2 separate regions of the Homo sapiens genome follow, and region 1 is linked to region 2. The links come from fine-mapping of genetic effects on gene expression. A gene starts in region 2. The other region holds a variant in brackets. All regions are shown on one strand. Distances are between the middles of the regions.

Region 1 (8,329 bases), 48 kb before region 2:
AGGTTAGTAGGCTTCTTTCAGCAATTAGTGTGTATGTGTGGGGTAAGGAAGGTGCTATGAGATACATTTCTTAGGCAATAGAGAGCTTCAATTAAGTAGCCAAATTACAGTTGATGTTATTGTGTAACTGTTTTGGCAGTATGTATCAGAATCCATTCATGCTCTTTGACCCAGAAATGCTACTGTAGCGGTCCTGCTATTGCCATATCAATTAAGGATAACTGGGAGTGGGAAGCCATATAAGCCAAGATGTTCATAGAGACATTATCAAAGGTATATAACAGAAAAAAACACCTCATTCTTTAACAGCTGGTAAGTGGTGTTTTAGCTCTTAGAATGTTGTCCTTAAACAATTGTTATGAAGTCTGACTGTCTCACACCTTGCATTTAGAATATGTGAGAAGGGAACTAACCTCAGGAATACTGTGATTGCAGCAAACATGGTGGAGGAGCGTGAGTGGGAATGAGTGTGGGGAGGTAGACAGGGCCTGAATCAGTAGGAATGTGTATTCTGCAGAAGGTGACGGGGGACCATTGAAGGGTGTTTTGTTTGTTTTTGAGACGGAGTTTTGCTCTTGTTGCCCAGGCTGGAGTGCAGTGGCTTGATCTTGGCTCACGGCAACCTCTGCCTCCTGTATTCAAGCGATTCTCCTGCCTCAGCCTCCCGAGTAGCTGGGATTACAGGCGTGTGCCACCATGCCCGGCTAATTTTGTATTTTTAGTAGAGACGGGTTTCTCCATGTTGGTCAGGCTGGTCTCGAACTCCCCACTTCAGGTGATCCGCCCACCTCAGCCTCCGAAAGTGCTGGGATTACAGGTGTGAGCTACCACACCTGGCCTCCGTTAAAGGGTTTTTAAATCTTCACTGACTAGGGCTGGGTTTGGGTTGCTGCTGTGGTCATGGTGGTGAGCATAGCCAGCCATTGTAGGGTTTATTGCCTTTTTTTTTTTTTTTTTTTTTTTTTTTGAGACAGGGTACTTGCTCTGTTGTCCAGGCTGGAGTTCAGTGGCGCAGTCATAGGTCACTGCAGCCGCCAGGCCTCCAACTCCTGGGCTCGAGTGTTGCTTCTGTCTCAGCCTCTCAAGTAGCTGCGACCAGAGGTATCAGCCGCTGTGTCCAGCCTCATTTTTTTTTTTTTCTTTTTGTTTTGAGACAGTCTGACTGTGTCTTCCAGGCGGGAGTGCAGTGGTGTTATTTCAGCTTACTGCAACCTCTGCCTCCTGTGCTCGAGCGATTCTCCTGCCTCAGCCTCCTGAGTAGCTGGGACTACAGGTTCACACCAGCACGCCTGGCTAATTTTGTTTGTTTGTTTGTTTTTGTAGAGACGAGGTTTCCCCATGTTGCCCAGGCTGGTCTGAAACTCCTGAGCTTCAACTAATCTGCCCACTTTGGCCTCCCAAAGTGCTGGGATTATAGGCATGAACCACTGTGCCTGCTGCATTTTTTTTTTCTTTTTGGTTTTCATCTTCTTCATTAAAACATAATTTATTTTTTTTGAAAAAGACAATGTGTAATATTTGTTGTATTTTGAATCTTAAAAATAGCACGTTTTATTTCTAAACAATAAAAATTTTAAAAAAGTAGTTGAGTTAAATACAGGACAGTCATAGATCATAATTAGAACTGTTTTTGTTAAATATAGAGGGGTTTTTTTGTTGTTGGTTTTACCCTAAAGCTATGTGATTCAGTGGTTTGGGCTTTGCTCAGGTACTGAAGAATGAACATTGGCCAGTTTTCAGCTGGAACAACCGTTTAGCGAGGCCCTCAGGTGTATTTCCCACATCTGAGTTTAAGGAACTTCGTAACCACACCTGTATTATTTTACATTTAAGGACCTTTTTAAGCTGTGCATTTAGCTGTTACTTTAAATGCATTTAGATTAGATTTTGAAATTGTATAGGCCAGGCGTGTTGACTCACACCTGTAATCCCAACACTTTGGTAGGCTGAGGTGGGAGGATCTCTTGAGGCCAGGAGTTTGGGACTCAGCCTGGGCAACTTAGCCAGACCCTATCTCTACAAAAAATAAAATTAGCTGGGCATGGTGGCCTGCGCCTGTTGTCCCAGCTACTCAGGAGGCTGAGATGGGAGGATTGCTTGAGCCCAGTAAGTTGAGGCTGCAGTGAGCCAGGATTGCATCACTACACTGCAGCCTTGGTGACTGAGATCCTGTCTCAAAAAAAATGATAACTTTTTTTTAGTTTTATTAATATCAAGTTCTTCTATTTAAGAAGTAAATGCCCTAGAACACACCCTTAATATTCAGTTACAATGTCATCTAATTCTACCAATATAGAAATAATCATCTTTAAAAGTGGAATAATACTGAGTATATTACACAAGGTTTTTACACAAGCAATACATCCTCAGTGTAGAAGTAATGGAAGATACGGAATAAACAAATGCAATTAGAAAATAATCCCATAAGTTAATTTGAAAGTGTAAACACCAGTAAATGCTTTGACTTACTCTAAAATGGTTGGGCTATCATTAATGTATGTTTGTGTTGCCGAATGTATTATAAAAAATAAGGCAAATTAGAATTAATGTTATTCTGAAGTCTGGTTATTTTAGTGCCAATAAGATAATTTTATTTTATTTTATTTTTTTTTTTAGATGGAGTTTCACTCTTGTTGCCCAGGCTGGAGTGCAGTGGCATGATCTCCGCTCGCTGCAACCTCCGCCTCCTGGGTTCAAGTGATTCTTCTGCCTCAGCCTCCTGAGTAGCGGGGATTACAGGCGTGCACCACCACGCTCAGCTAATTTTGTATTTTTAGTAGAGATGGGGTTTCACCATGTTGGTCAGGCCGGTCTCGAACTCCTGAGCTCAAGTGACCCACCCACCTCGGCCTCCCAAAGTGCTTGGATTACAGGCGTGAACCACCGCGCCAGGCCGAGAAATTTTTTTATGAGTAAAGTTTGTGTGTGATGAAATGCACAGATCTGAAGTGTATAGTTTAATAAGCTTTAACAAGTGTATATACTCAGGTAACCTCAGTCAAGATCTAGAACATTTTCATCACTCTAGAAAGTTCCCTCCTGTCCCTTCTAGTGGACTCCATCCCACAGATAACCGTTGTTTAAAAAGTATATTGAACAAACATTTTTGCTTATGAATATAATTATTACAACTCTTTTTAATTTATAGGGGATAAAAACATTCAGATGGCAGATCACAGGTAAGCCAAAGTGGACTTTGTTTATTGGAGTTTAAAATTCAGTTGGTGAGCAACAGCCAAGCCATTTTTCAATAAATAATTAGAATCAAAGTTAAATGCATTTCAGCGTCTAGCTGATGGCTCATTTCTTGTGTATGTATTTGAGCACGTAAAGAAATTACTTCCGACATGAACAGTGCCTCAGACATTGACACTACAGATCTTTTATGGAAAGCAATCGTTTTGCTCTCCATGCTTTAACACCCCTGGGGTGAAGTTAGGTAATTTTGACACTCTCCTAACAGTCTGTAGTTGTCAGTGATCAAGTGGAAGATTTTGTTTTGTGGATTGAGGGTTACTTTTAGTTGTGTATATTATTTGATGTTTATTTTTTGTGAGGGAGGTGTGTCCAGGCATCTTTAAAAACTGTTTCATGGCTCATTTTACACTTGTTGTGGCTAATTTTACAAAGCCACTTTGGGCACTGTCTTAACTTGGTAAGACTGCCTTGCTCTGATCACATGAGCAGCTGACCAAACAGTAACATGTTCGTTGGTTGATGGGTTTGGTTTGAGGGCTGGGAGCAGATTTTTTGAGGAAAGAAGCTGTAGAAATGAGAGCTAAGAAGCTTTGGCTAAGGTTGGAAATAAGAACTTTGTAGGGCTTTATGTTTGGGAGAGGAGAGGGGATGTTACGTAGTAGAATATTTTTATAGCAGAGAGGACAGCCTCTGAGATAACATGCACATTGGTAGTTTTCTTCTGCCCAAATCTGACGTCACTGTACAGATACCTCTTAATATATTGAATAAGAAACATGTCCATTTGTGCTATGTCTTTGGAACTTTCTTTACAGTAATACTTTTTAAACATACTGTTGTTTTAGTTTTTCAGATGGGGTTCCTTCAGATTCCGTGGAAGCTGCTAAAAATGCAAGTAACACAGGTCAGTCCACTGCACATGGAGAGTTTGCATCCAGTATGGGGAACGTTCCTCTCTCTGGAAACATTTATTAATGCAAGTAAAGGATTCCTGTACTGCAGTGGTTTTAGGAAAGCTAGAGTAATTAAAATGAAAAATCAGTATCTCATTAACAAAAGATGTATTTATTATAGGAATTCAGACTCTACAGTAGTAAAGAGAGTAATAGTACAGTCTACCTTCTTGTAGCTACCATCAGTGAGCTTTAGTATTGATTAACAAATGACCAGTCTTTTTTCTTATTTTTGAGATGGAGCCTTGCTGTGTTACCCAGGCTGGTCTTGGACTCCTGGGCTCAAGCAGTTTCCTGCCGCAGCCTCCCAGGTAGTTGGGGCTACAGGCACAGACCACTGCTCCTGGCCATTTTTTTTTTTTTTTTTTAAGTCTATACCCTTTACTTTCCTTCCTTTGGAAAGCAAATCCTAAGAATGTCATTTTGTTCATAAATTCACAGATGTGATATTTTTCCACCATTAAAAAAAACTATATCTGTACTCCCCACTCCCTCCAAACTGTTTGAAAGCAAGTGGTGGATATCTATTTTCCTAAAACAATTCTACAATGTCATTACCAAGAAACTTAACACTGGAGCAATACCATTCTCTAATAGACAGTCATGCTCCTGTTTCCCTGGTTTTCTCAGCAATTTTTACCCCACGCCCGAATCTAGCACCTATTCAAGGATCATGCGTTTTGTTTTGTTCTAGAGTCATCTCCCTACCTTTTGCATCTTTTATTAATACATCAACATATCAGCGCTCTGGGCCACTGTTGTCTTATAGAATGCTCACAGTCTGGATTTGCCCAGTCGTTTCTTCCTGATGAGATTCAGGGTAAACATTTTGGCAAGAAGGG[C/T]ACACAGGTAACATGATGCAGTGGTCGTTGGTTCCGGAGGCACAGGGTGTTGGCTCGGCACCTGCCCAAGGACACTGAGATTGATGATTAAGACAGTGCCTGCCAGACTTCTCTGTTACCAAGGTCCTTTCACCTTGGAAGCAATCTGTCAGGCACGTGTAGATATCCTCTTCCTCTTCAGCAAACTTTCACACGGAGGTTTTAGCACCCATTCATATGTGTTTGTATATGCATGTAGTATTTATATACTACACATGTGTACACAGTTTTATATATACAAATTACGTACCTTAAATACACTTCATGTGCTTCATGTTAGTGGTTGTGTTTGCAGTTCTATTATGAATGTTTAAAATTGAGTGCCTGCTTGGTGTGTTTGACTTACCCACATCATGGGAGAATACTCGGGATGGGAGAATACTCGGGATGGGAGAATACTCGGGTATGTACTGGCTCTAAGCAAGGGAAGGGCGCTGGGTTTGGATTTCTGTATTGTGTCATTAAGAGGGAGATTGTTAAGAGTCTGTGTCATGAGCCAGATGTCTGCCACTTCATAGTCACAACTGGGTAAAAGGACAGTCACTACCTTGTCAGGATCTCATTCATTGGTTTATTGGGAAATGGGCTTATAAATACAAACAGCTTGGTATTGTGAGCTCACTACACATGTAGGTTAGCCCTAAGTGGGGTGGAATGGTCAGAAGTGCTTCCTGGAGGGAGGTGGGTTTGGGCAGAAGGACATTCAAGGCAGAGGCGAGTAGCACATGCAAAGAAAACTTAGGGAACAGTGCTGGCAGAGAGCTAGTGAGCCTTGGGCTCTCCTGGACTGTGAAGTCTATGGCACCACAGTGAGCAAGGGAGCTAGTGGATGCTCTTTTACTTTGAGGAACTGATCTCATCTCTGTTCGTGGCTTCTGGACACCACCATGGGACTTGGGGGTAGACCATGTGAACTTACATTAATGATGTCCTCAGTTGTTTAAGTCTGGTGCTTAAACAGCCACAGTCCTGGTGAGAGCCAGGACTCTCTAGGTGTTTATTCAGTAAATTTGTAACTACCCATCAGGTGATTAACCCAGAGTGTTAAATGCTCTTAAAATAAATTTTAATTATTTTCAAAACATGTTTAAGAAGTCACTGGTGTATGTATTTAGAAATTAGTAGATGTAAATCTAGGCAAAGCTAAGTAGATATGTTACTAATTTTTGACTCTTGGCTATTGTGTGTGGTGGGCATATTTTAAATATGTTTGGTCTTAACTCTTCATAGAAAAGCTCACAGATCAGGTGATGCAGAATCCTCGAGTTCTGGCAGCTTTACAGGAGCGACTTGACAATGTCCCTCACACCCCTTCCAGCTACATCGAAACGTAAGTGTGCTGTGAATAGGGTCTCATGCAATTTGGAGAAACAAAAGGAAAATAAAGGAAAAACCACTTTTCAGTTCCCCAGAACAGGATTAAATGTTTTTTTCGTTCCAAGACATTGTCTATGAGAGACAGGCACTGGGATATGAGAGGAGTGACCCTACCCGGTGCCTAGGCTGAGAGTTTGCCTGGTGGATGGAGTAGCGTGACCTGTCAGTTCTGATAGGAAGTGCACAGTGCCATCCTGTGGAGGGCTAGAGGACTTCACAGATCATCTGAGTTGGAGAGGACAGCTGGTGGCTCCTAAGTTAAACTAAGAGAACCACTCCTTCCTGACTTACCCACATGAGCCTGTGACACCAACACCTTAAAAAAAAAAAACTGGGCATAGTGCCGCATGCCTATGAGTTTTCACTACCCTCCAGCCTGGGTGACAGTGAGACTGTCTTTAAGAAAAAAAAAAAGATGGGGTCTCACTGTATTTCCTAGGCTGGTTTTGAACTCATGGCCTCAATTGGTTCTCCCGCCTCAGCCTCTCAAAATGCTGGGATAACGGGTGAGCTACCGTGCCTGGCTGACACCTTTGCTTTCTTAAGAGAGGCCTATGTGCTAGATGTATTGCACTATGAAAATGATAAGGGTGGTGATCCTAGAATCCTAGGATGGCTCTTGTCAGGACCTCTCTTACTTCTGGAAGGAATTTTTGGTTTTTGAGTTGGAGTCTCACTGTTGTTCAGGCTGGAGTGCAGTGGCATGTAATAGTTCATTGTAACCTTGAACTCCTGAGCTCAAGTAATCCTTCTACCTCAGCCTCCAGAGTAGTTGGAACTATAGGCATGCACCACCATGCATGGCAATTTTTTTTTTTTTTTTTAAAGGGATGAGCTGTTACTGGGCTTCCATCTATAATTGGGTCAGGGCTTGGTCTCCCAGGAGGCCCCACCTTCCAGCTGGTTTCCCCAGTCAGGACTGCCAGGGCTATTACGACAAGAAGGGGACATTTATTTTTTATTTTTATTTTTTGAGACAGACTCTTGCTCTGTCATCCAGGCTGGAGTGCAACTTCCGCCTCCCGGGTTCAAGTGATTCTCCTGCCTCAGCCTCCTGAGTAGCTGGAATTGCAGGTGCACGCCACCACTCCCAGCTAGTTTTTTGTAGTTTTATTTATTTCACTGTACGTTCTGGAGTAGATGTGCTGAGTGTTCAGGTTTGTTACATAGGTATACATGTGCCATGGTGATTTGCTGCACGTGTTTTTTTGTTTGTTTTGTTTTGTTTTGTTTTTGTATTTTTAGTAGAGACAGGGATTTGCCATGTTGGCCAGGCTGATCTCCAGCTCCTGACCTCAGGTGATCTGCCCACCTTGGCCTCCCAAAGTGCTGGGATTATAGGCATGAGCCACTGCGCCTGGCCTAGAAGGTGACATTCAGAGTTTGCTTTGCCCATTTAGAAGCTTCTCAGAGATTACTTAGTGGGCAAGGTGTTTTGATGTTATTTTTTTTGCAGACTAGATTGATGGGATGGGGTGATACTGAGTGGGAGTGGCAAGAATGAGAATGAGTAATGGTTTCTAGTTTTCTCGCTTTAGAAACTGGGTTGGTGGGGTGGCATTCTGTGAGAGGAACTGCTTGAGTGGGATCAGGTTTATGTGGGACTAGAAGTGGTTCCATATTAGCCATATTGCAGGAAAAGTGCCGGCAGAGGGCTGGGTGTAGTTGGTGTGAATGATTGAAGGACTGTTGGGGGCACACTAGGGTCCAGTTTGTTTAACATCCTTTGTCTAAATGACGAGTTAATGGGTGCAGCACACCAACATGGCACATGCATACGTATGTAACAAACCTGCACGTTGTGCATTTGTACCCTAAAACTTAAAGTATAATTAAAAAAAAAAATCCTTTGTCATTTTACTTCAGTTGGAAAGCTTCAAAAATTAAACTAATTTAAAATTGTATAATTAGCCAGGCATG
Region 2 (8,329 bases):
CTGCAGTGCAGTGGAGTAATCACGGCTCACTGCAGCCTCGACCGCCTGGGCTGAAGTGATCCTCCCAACTCAGCCTCCCAAGTAGTTGGGACTATAGTGCACATGCCACCATGCCTGGCTAATTTTTATTTTTTTTTTTGTAGAGATGGGGGGGTCTTGCTGTGTTGTCCAGGCTGGTCTCAAACTTCTGGGCTCAAGCAATCTGCTCACCTCGGCCTCCCAACTTGCTGGGATCATAGGCGTCAGCCACCGAGCCCGGCCTCAGGATGCTTTTTTAGCCATTTCCTGAGTGCCTGGGCTGATCCCTGGGGCTCCCAAAGAATAAAACATTATCACTGCATTTAAGGAGCTGATAATAGCTTCTGAGCAGGGTACTGAGGGATAAACAGGAGCTCATCAGGGGCCAAGGAGAAGGGTGTTCCTGGTTTCTCAATCAATCCCCAACATCTTGTGAGGTAGGACCTGCCTGTCAGGCTCCAGTGGAAGAGCTCAGGAAGAGACACAGCAACAGAGAACACAGCCCTCCAAGGCCAAGATCAGGCTGACAGCAAGTGTCTGAAAACCAGGTGGGTCATGCCACGGGGCCTCTCACTTTCCTCAGGCTGCAGCTGGGAGGAGACAGATAGAGGGCAAGCCTGAGTCACAGGCCCTGGCACATGGGCCATGTTGGGCTCAGGTGAGGTGGCACCAGTGCACTGCTCAGGTGCTGCAGCTCCAGGCAGCTTAGGTCTTCCCCCAGCCTCCCCAGGCTCAGGTGGGCGGAGGCTTGGAGACCCATGGCCTAGCAGTATGTGGTTGGCAGGAGGCAGGCCTTAGAGTGCGCCCTGGCAATCTGAGAGGGCTTCCTGGAGGGGGTGAGAGGAGCTAGGGGTGGGCCTTCCTGACTGAGGAGCAGTGGGCCTTTCTGCAGGGCTCTCTCTGAGCAACCCCTCCCACAAGAGGGTGGTGTCAAGCCCCAGGCACTGGGCCGGGCCCTGTGACACGCAGCTTCCTCACAGGCTGGCAGGATGGCCAGGCTCGTTGGGCAAGTGCCTGGAGGGCCCGGCCTCGTCACCGTAAGGAAGTGACCTCACTCAGGGAGTTTCGGAGAGGTGCCCGCATCCTACTCCAGCTGCTGACAGCCTCACACAGCTGGGCTCCGGTGCCAAGGGTCCAGGCAGCTGGACAGGGCAGCCAGTGTCCCAGGCCAGATGTTTGGGCACCCAGACTGTACAATGCCTGCCCAGGGGTGGGGGCCCTTGGCTCAGGCTCTGCATGAATCCTGGATGTGGCCCCTCAGATAAATATCAGTAAACCCGGTTTGGACTGATGCTGCCTGACACCACCAACTCGAGGCAGAGCCCCCTCCCCATCCTGAGAAGCAGTCACAGAACATCAGGGCTGTTTCCTGCCCCGAGCCACAGGGTGCCACAGAATCGGGGAAGCTGTGGATGTGGCCGCACTGGCCACTGTGTAACCTGGGTGAGTCACCACCTCTCTGAAACCCCCACCCAGTGTTCCCTGCAAACCCAAGAAAGCAGTCTCAACAGGGAGAAATGACCGCACAGAACTAGCACGGGGCAGGGCCACACGGACTCTCCTGCCGGTGCCTGGCCCTGGCATCTCTCCGGCAGGTGGTTCCTCCGCCTCCAGCACGTGAGTGGTCCAGAACCCTCGTAGAAGCAGGTCCCATGGGGTGTGGCCGAATCCACGCCGGGTTCCAATCTCTGTGCTGTGCTGGAGAAGCTCCCAGGCTCTTGGCTATCAAATGGCTCTAGGAGGGGCATTCCTCAAAAGACCCTCATGTGGGGTCCCTGTGTCAGCACTCTTCTGCCTCAACATCCCTCCCCCACATCCCAGGAAGTGAGTGTCACAGCCCTCATCCTCCAGAGGGGACCCTCAGGCAGGCCTGCTCTGGGGGATAGAGATAGGGTCCCTCCTTGGAAAGGTGACCTTGACAAGTCACTGCACCTCTCTGAGCCACCCTTTCTGCATCTGCAGCTTGGGGCCAGTGCTTCTCCTGGGGGCACCGCTCAGCCCCAGGTGGGACCAGGTGAGGCGGTGAGGCTCAGGCCTCAGGCAAGGGAGGCCGAGCGGGGGCTGGCAGAGGGCGGGTGGCTCAGAGGGGCAGACGGCAGTGTGAGTTAGTGGTGGTGGTAAAGCCCCTCGGGTGGATGGTGGACGCAGAGAGGATGGGGCAGCCCCTGTGTGCAAGTACCTGCCAAGTTGGCATGGTGTCCTCCAAGCCCCTCTCACCTCCTAAGGCCGTGGTTTATTTTTGCCCATGTCCATAAAGACACCCTGGGGGCTCCTGAAGTCACCTGCTGGTCCAGGGCTGGTAAGGCTTGGGAGTCGGCTCCCTCCAGCCCCCACATTGGCAACCAGGTTCAGGCTGGTTTGGCCGAGCAGGGGCCCAGGGTGTCTAGCAGCTGCTGGGGAGGCCAGGGCCACTACAACTGAGCCCCTGGGGCAGGGACTGTGGGCAGAGAAGCTGCCTGGGGAGGCCTGGCCTCCAGGGCTCAGACCTGATTTCCAGCAGCCCCTAAAGGGCCATCCACCCCCATACCCCCCAGGTCTTCACAGTGTCCATGAGGGGAATAGCAGAGAGGGGCTGAGTGGGCAGGAAATCCCCTAGGGAGGGCAGGGCCTCTGAATCTCGGCTGCACACCCTGCCCCCTGGCCTCCCAGCTCCTGCCCCACCTGTCAGAGCATCACCCCTGGGTTGTAAGTCCTGCCCCCAGGGGAGTGAGTTTCCCAGCCTCCCTTGAGAGGGCCACTGGGGTACAGGCAAAGAGAGGAGCTGGGCGGGGCTGGGGGAGCACACCTCACCTGGCCTCACCTGGTTTCCAAACCCTCTTCCTCCCCCTCATTTCTCTCAGCCCCTTATCTGCTCCTGCCTGTTCTCTGTCCCTTCCCCAAGGCCCTCTCCATCCTGAACCAGTTTCCTCTTCTGTGGAACAGGGGCTGGAGTGCCCACTTTGGGGAGTTCTCTGGGTTAGGTGGAGGCTGGGCACAGTGGTGGCATACGGGCACCACTGGCCCTTCAAGGTCTCCTTGGAATCTTCGAGGGCACGCCCTCCCCACAGAGTCCTCCAAGCTGTCCTCCTGGCCTCCAGTACCCCCGACCCCTATCCCCATCCTCATGTACCTGCTGTGCCCCTGGGGTTTAGAGGGATTCCTCTCCCCTCCTCTGGGGTCCCAGCACCAGCCAGGCCTGCAGGCACACAGTAGGTGCTTAAGCAACCACGAGTGTCGGGGGATTTGCCTGGAGCCGAAGTTCCACTGGCTGGCCCCTCAATGGGGTAGGCAGGCTGGTGGGCCTGGAGGTGTTCCAGGCACCTGTGGGCTGGCGCAGTGACAGAGCGCTCTGCCCCCGGCCGCTTCTCCTGGTCTCCCACTGCCCAGAGGTGCCTCTTGCCCAGGTCCCACTGTCCGGCAGCCCAGGGCCCTCTGGAAGCAAAAGAAGGGACACCAGAGTCCGAATCCTTCCTGCAGCCTCTCCGGAACAATGCTCGAATCCCCTCTCCCCGCCAAAGGCTGACCTCCCCTCACCCACCCACCCTACCTGCTGCTCCCTCACCACAGGATCCCAGCCCTGCTGCAAGGACAGGTGTCAGGTAGGGGGCAGTGTTGACCCGCCGGCCCCAGGCAGGTGTCTCACTCCCAGGCCAGAACCCTGGCACAGCCCAACCCTGCCCTCTGCCGGCACTGCCCCTCCACACCACATCCCTGCCCACTGCCAGGTCCTCTGGCCACACCGGTGGGACCACCGGGCAGCTGCTACCTGCATGCCATTCACAGAACCGGGTCTGGGGCGCTCCTCTGAGCCGGACGTCTCTTTATCCTTTACAGTGACCCTGAAGGGCAGGTGGAGGTAGGGCTGGTCCCAGGTCTGGGTTTTACGCTCTGCTGCCACTGTCTTGACATTTTAAATACATTTTGAATCAGGGGACTCTCGTTTTCATTTTGCGTGAGCCCCGTCATTGAGGCCAATTCTGACCCCAGAGTTGGGACTTCCTGCTGTAACCACCCCAGGGCGCAGCTAGGGGGCAGGGGTGCGGGAAGGTGGGAGACGTGGAGTAGTAGCCGGGGTCTCTGGGGTCCTCTCGGCCGGCTCCACCCCCACCCCTGGGAACCCGGGAAGAGCCGGCTTTCGCTTCCTGTCTATTAAACCCTTTAAAGGAAGAGGGTAAATAAAACCGCCCGTCTGCCCAGCTGGAAAGCGATGACTCAGCCGCCCCCGCCGACCCTCGCCCCCAGGCTGATCCCAGAGAGCGGGCGTCGCGGCCCAGCCCGAACCCCTCAGCTCCTGGGACCTCTCTCCGGTCCGGGTCGTGGGGGCGCGGTCGGAGCAGTCCGTACCCCAGTTCGGGACACTACGAGGGCGCAGGGAGGAGAACGGGCTTCCTCTTCCCCTTCCATTTTCTGAGCTCTATGGGTTGCTGGTCTAGCCCTTTCCACGTGTTCCCTAATCCAGCAAAGGTTACTGTTCCCATTTCACAGAAGCGAAAACCGAGGCTAAGAGAGGTGGTCGTTCTTGGCGCAGCCCGTGGGTGGCAAGATAGGAGCTCGGTCCGCTAGGGCAGGGCCACTTTCGGAGAGGGTCTCTGGGCGGCCCTGGGAAAGGCCCCCGAACAGGACGGAACGGCCAGGGCTCGGGAGTAAGGAAGGGGGCCTCGACCCTCCTTCTGCCCCGGGAGCCCGAGAGCGGCAGGGCTGGACTTGGGGCGCCTGGAGGGTGAAGGTCTGGTCCCGGCTGTCTCCCCACGGTGGGCCGGCCCCGGGCCCGCGGGTGCTTCCCGGGGCTCCCCGGCGTGAGTCATCGCGGGCAGGGCTGGCTGCAGCGCATTCTTCCGCGGGGCCGGCCTGCGAGACGGTGCGGGCGAGCGCCCGGGCGGGGCGGGACCTCGAGTCACCCCACGGGGCCGGACAGCTGGGGCACGGGGGGCAAGAGGAGCGCGGGCTTCTGAGATGGGAGGGGACGGCCGGGGACCGACCAGAGCGCGGACGCGACGGTGCGGGCCCGGACGGCTGGGCTTGGGGAGGGTATGGCCCGGGGCGCGCGGGGCTCAGGCGGGCGGGGTGGCCCGAGGGCCGGGGCGGGGCGGGGAGGGGCGGGGCGGGGAGGGGCAGCTATAAAGGCCGCGCCGGGGCCACGAGGAGCAGAGCCGGCGCCGTCACCGCCCGCATTGCCGCTCCCAGTCCCGCGCTCGGCACGACATGAAATCCCCCGACGAGGTGCTACGCGAGGGCGAGTTGGAGAAGCGCAGCGACAGCCTCTTCCAGCTATGGAAGAAGAAGCGCGGGGTGCTCACCTCCGACCGCCTGAGCCTGTTCCCCGCCAGCCCCCGCGCGCGCCCCAAGGAGCTGCGCTTCCACTCCATCCTCAAGGTGGACTGCGTGGAGCGCACGGGCAAGTACGTGTACTTCACCATCGTCACCACCGACCACAAGGAGATCGACTTCCGCTGCGCGGGCGAGAGCTGCTGGAACGCGGCCATCGCGCTGGCGCTCATCGATTTCCAGAACCGCCGCGCCCTGCAGGACTTTCGCAGCCGCCAGGAACGCACCGCACCCGCCGCACCCGCCGAGGACGCCGTGGCTGCCGCGGCCGCCGCACCCTCCGAGCCCTCGGAGCCCTCCAGGCCATCCCCGCAGCCCAAACCCCGCACGCCATGAGCCCGCCGCGGTGAGTGACTGCCCGCGTCCCGGCGAGCCCTGCGCCCTAACAGCCGGGACCGGGGCCTTTGGGAAAAACCACTTCAACCCCAGACGGCGGGGCGGGGGCGCTGCACCTCCTTGGGGGACCCGGCGCCCCGCAATCGCGCTGGCCCCCTCGCGTCAGGGTCTCGGGGCCCCTCAGGCTGGACCCGGACCGGCCCTGGCACAGCTCTCTGACCCAGTCCTTTCCCCACAGGGCCATACGCTGGACGAGTCGGACCGAGGCTAGGACGTGGCCGGCGCTCTCCAGCCCTGCAGCAGAAGAACTTCCCGTGCGCGCGGATCCTCGCTCCGTTGCACGGGCGCCTTAAGTTATTGGACTATCTAATATCTATGTATTTATTTCGCTGGTTCTTTGTAGTCACATATTTTATAGTCTTAATATCTTGTTTTTGCATCACTGTGCCCATTGCAAATAAATCACTTGGCCAGTTTGCTTTTCTACCATCCGGCTGTGGCTCAGTGAGACTCCTGCTGGGAGGGTGGAGGCCCAGGAATGGGCGGGCAGGACACCCTCATCCAGTCCTGCGGGGCTGGTGTGAAAGGCGCTGGGAACCGGCTTTGAATGAATAAATGAATCGTGTCATCTGCTGGGCCTGGTCCACACCCTCTTTTCCAAGCAGCCTCCCCAGAGGCCAGGAAGTGCCCTGGGGCTTGACCCTGGCTACCTTCTGCTCCTTGGTGTGTCCTGAGGAATTGAACCTGGGGAGGACAAGGGCCCTGGGTCCGAGCTGCTGCTGCCTGTGGTGGGGGAACCTTCCCCAGCAGCACTTCCTGCCCACAAACCACCCGCGCAGTCAGACCAGAAGGAATCCCTCAGCCCTCTGGCTGCCCGCCGCCAGCCGCTCCTTGCCAGTGCCCGCAGTGTGGGGCGGGCAGGGTCGCCTTTGCTTCTGGGGGAACAGGAGAGAGTTCTGGGCTGTCTCCGATGGTGGGGCAGGAGGCAGAGGTCCCTGCACCTCCAGGTACTGGCCCAGGACATTGGGGTGGAGAGGCCTGAGTGCAGCAAATCCCTGCCCCTCTTTCTGAGATAGCTGACCACGGCTTTCTGCCCTCCGGTCTGGCTGTGCTCTTTGAAAGACAGGGATGGTCTGAGACAGTTAGGGTTCAGGAAGTGTGTCCCCCACCCAGAAGGGCTCCTGGTGATGAACAAGCTGAGGAGGTGATAAGGGGTACAGGCATGACTCCTCACCCCACAATGGGGCCTTCATTTCTGGAACCTTCGTGGTTGGAGGGATGCCAGTAGGGGAGGCAGAGAAGTACCAGAATTGGACCCTAATCTCTGTTGCTAGGAGGCCGACGAAGCCTGGTAGCTGGTCTGGGCTCAGGGCGGGGAGGGTGCTATCCCTTCGCTGCATGGCCCGCAGGAGTCTTGGTGCTAGGTCCAGAAGAAACTATTGCCTGCAAGGAAGTTTCTCCCGAACGCAATTTGTGAAGCCCCTGTGCAGATCGGGGAGGGGCTCCTGCAAAAAGCAGAAAACAGCAGCCAAGGACGCTGCCTGGCTGGGCTCCTGGGCCTCCTGGCTGGCCCACCAGAGCCTCACCTGGATGGATATCCAAGGTCAAGAGGAGAGCCCTTGCCCCTGGGTGCTTCAAGCATAGGCATGATCCGGCCTGAGCTTTAGGCGAAGAGGGTGGATGGCCCTTGGCTCACTGAGGCCACTTCTTGTTTGAGGAATTTTGGAATTCCTCAAATTCTGAGGACAGTGGAATTCTAAGGTTTGGGGAGTCCATGTTTCAACAGCTTCTTTTAAAAGCAGCCCGAGGAGAGGAGGGGCGGCCTTCATGGTCTCAGGGGCAGCTGCAGACCCTCGCTGAGGCTGTGGAAAGCCTGTCCTCTCCAGATGGGTCAATCGGTCACAGCGGCTGGGCTGGCCTCCTCATGCCCAGTTCTCCTCCCCAGAGCCCAGGACCAGGGGGTGGGGGTGAGGGGTCGGGAAGTGCTGTGGTCAGGAGGCTGGGAAGGCAACGGTACATGGCCTGGCCAGCAAATCAGCTATAGAAGGGACCCCCAGTTCCCAGGCCATGGATGGGTACTGGTCCATAGCCTGTTAGTAGCTGGGCCGCACAGCAGGAGGTGAGCAGCGGGGCAAGCATGACCGCCTGAATTCCACCTCTCGCCAGATCAGCGGCAGCAGTAGATTCTCACAGGGACGAGAACCTTGTTGTGAACTGTGCACAAGAGGGATCAAGGTTGAGCACTCCCCATGAGAATCTAATACCAGATGATCTGGGGTGAAACAGTTTCATCTGGCCCACCCACATCCGTGGAAAAATTGCCTTCCATAAAACTGGTCCCTGGTGCGGAAAATGTTGGGGGCCACTGAGCTGTAGGATGAAGAGGCTGAGATAAGGGGACACCAGAGGAGTTCTGGGGTTCATGTGGCTGGCAGTGTCTGGTGCGGTTCTGGGGTTCGGGTGGCTGGCAGTGTCTGGTGCAGTTCTGGGATTCGGGTGGCTGGCAGTGTCTGGTACGGTTCTGGGGTTCGGGTGGCTGGCAGTGTCTGGTACGGTTCTGGGGTTCGGGTGGCTGGCAGTGTCTGGTACGGTTCTGGGGTTCGGGTGGCTGGCAGTGTCTGGTGCGGTTCTGGGGTTCGGGTGGCTGGCAGTGTCTGGTGCGGTTCTGGGG

What was found. PIP is the estimated chance that this variant, and not a neighbour inherited with it, causes the effect. A credible set is the group of variants that fine-mapping cannot tell apart.
Region 1: its variant is the best candidate, but not a certain one, in a credible set for the expression of PHLDA2 in whole blood (INTERVAL, PIP 0.71).

The regions. Positions count from the first base shown.
Region 1 is chr11:2,974,057-2,982,385 of GRCh38, reverse strand. It overlaps NAP1L4 (nucleosome assembly protein 1 like 4), which reads left to right. Exons shown (of 16, transcript NM_005969.4): 2 at 3,149-3,179; 3 at 4,044-4,102; 4 at 6,263-6,362. The coding sequence starts at 3,166. Among named protein-coding and RNA genes, the nearest start is that of NAP1L4, 14 kb to the left of the region's middle. The variant C/T (reference allele first, on the strand shown) is at 4,994.
Region 2 is chr11:2,926,235-2,934,563 of GRCh38, reverse strand. PHLDA2 (pleckstrin homology like domain family A member 2) reads left to right here and starts at 5,144. Exons shown (of 2, transcript NM_003311.4): 1 at 5,144-5,668; 2 at 5,897-6,291. The coding sequence starts at 5,200. The coding sequence ends at 5,658. RefSeq lists enhancers at 413-1,025, 4,040-4,648, 4,649-5,258, 5,259-5,867.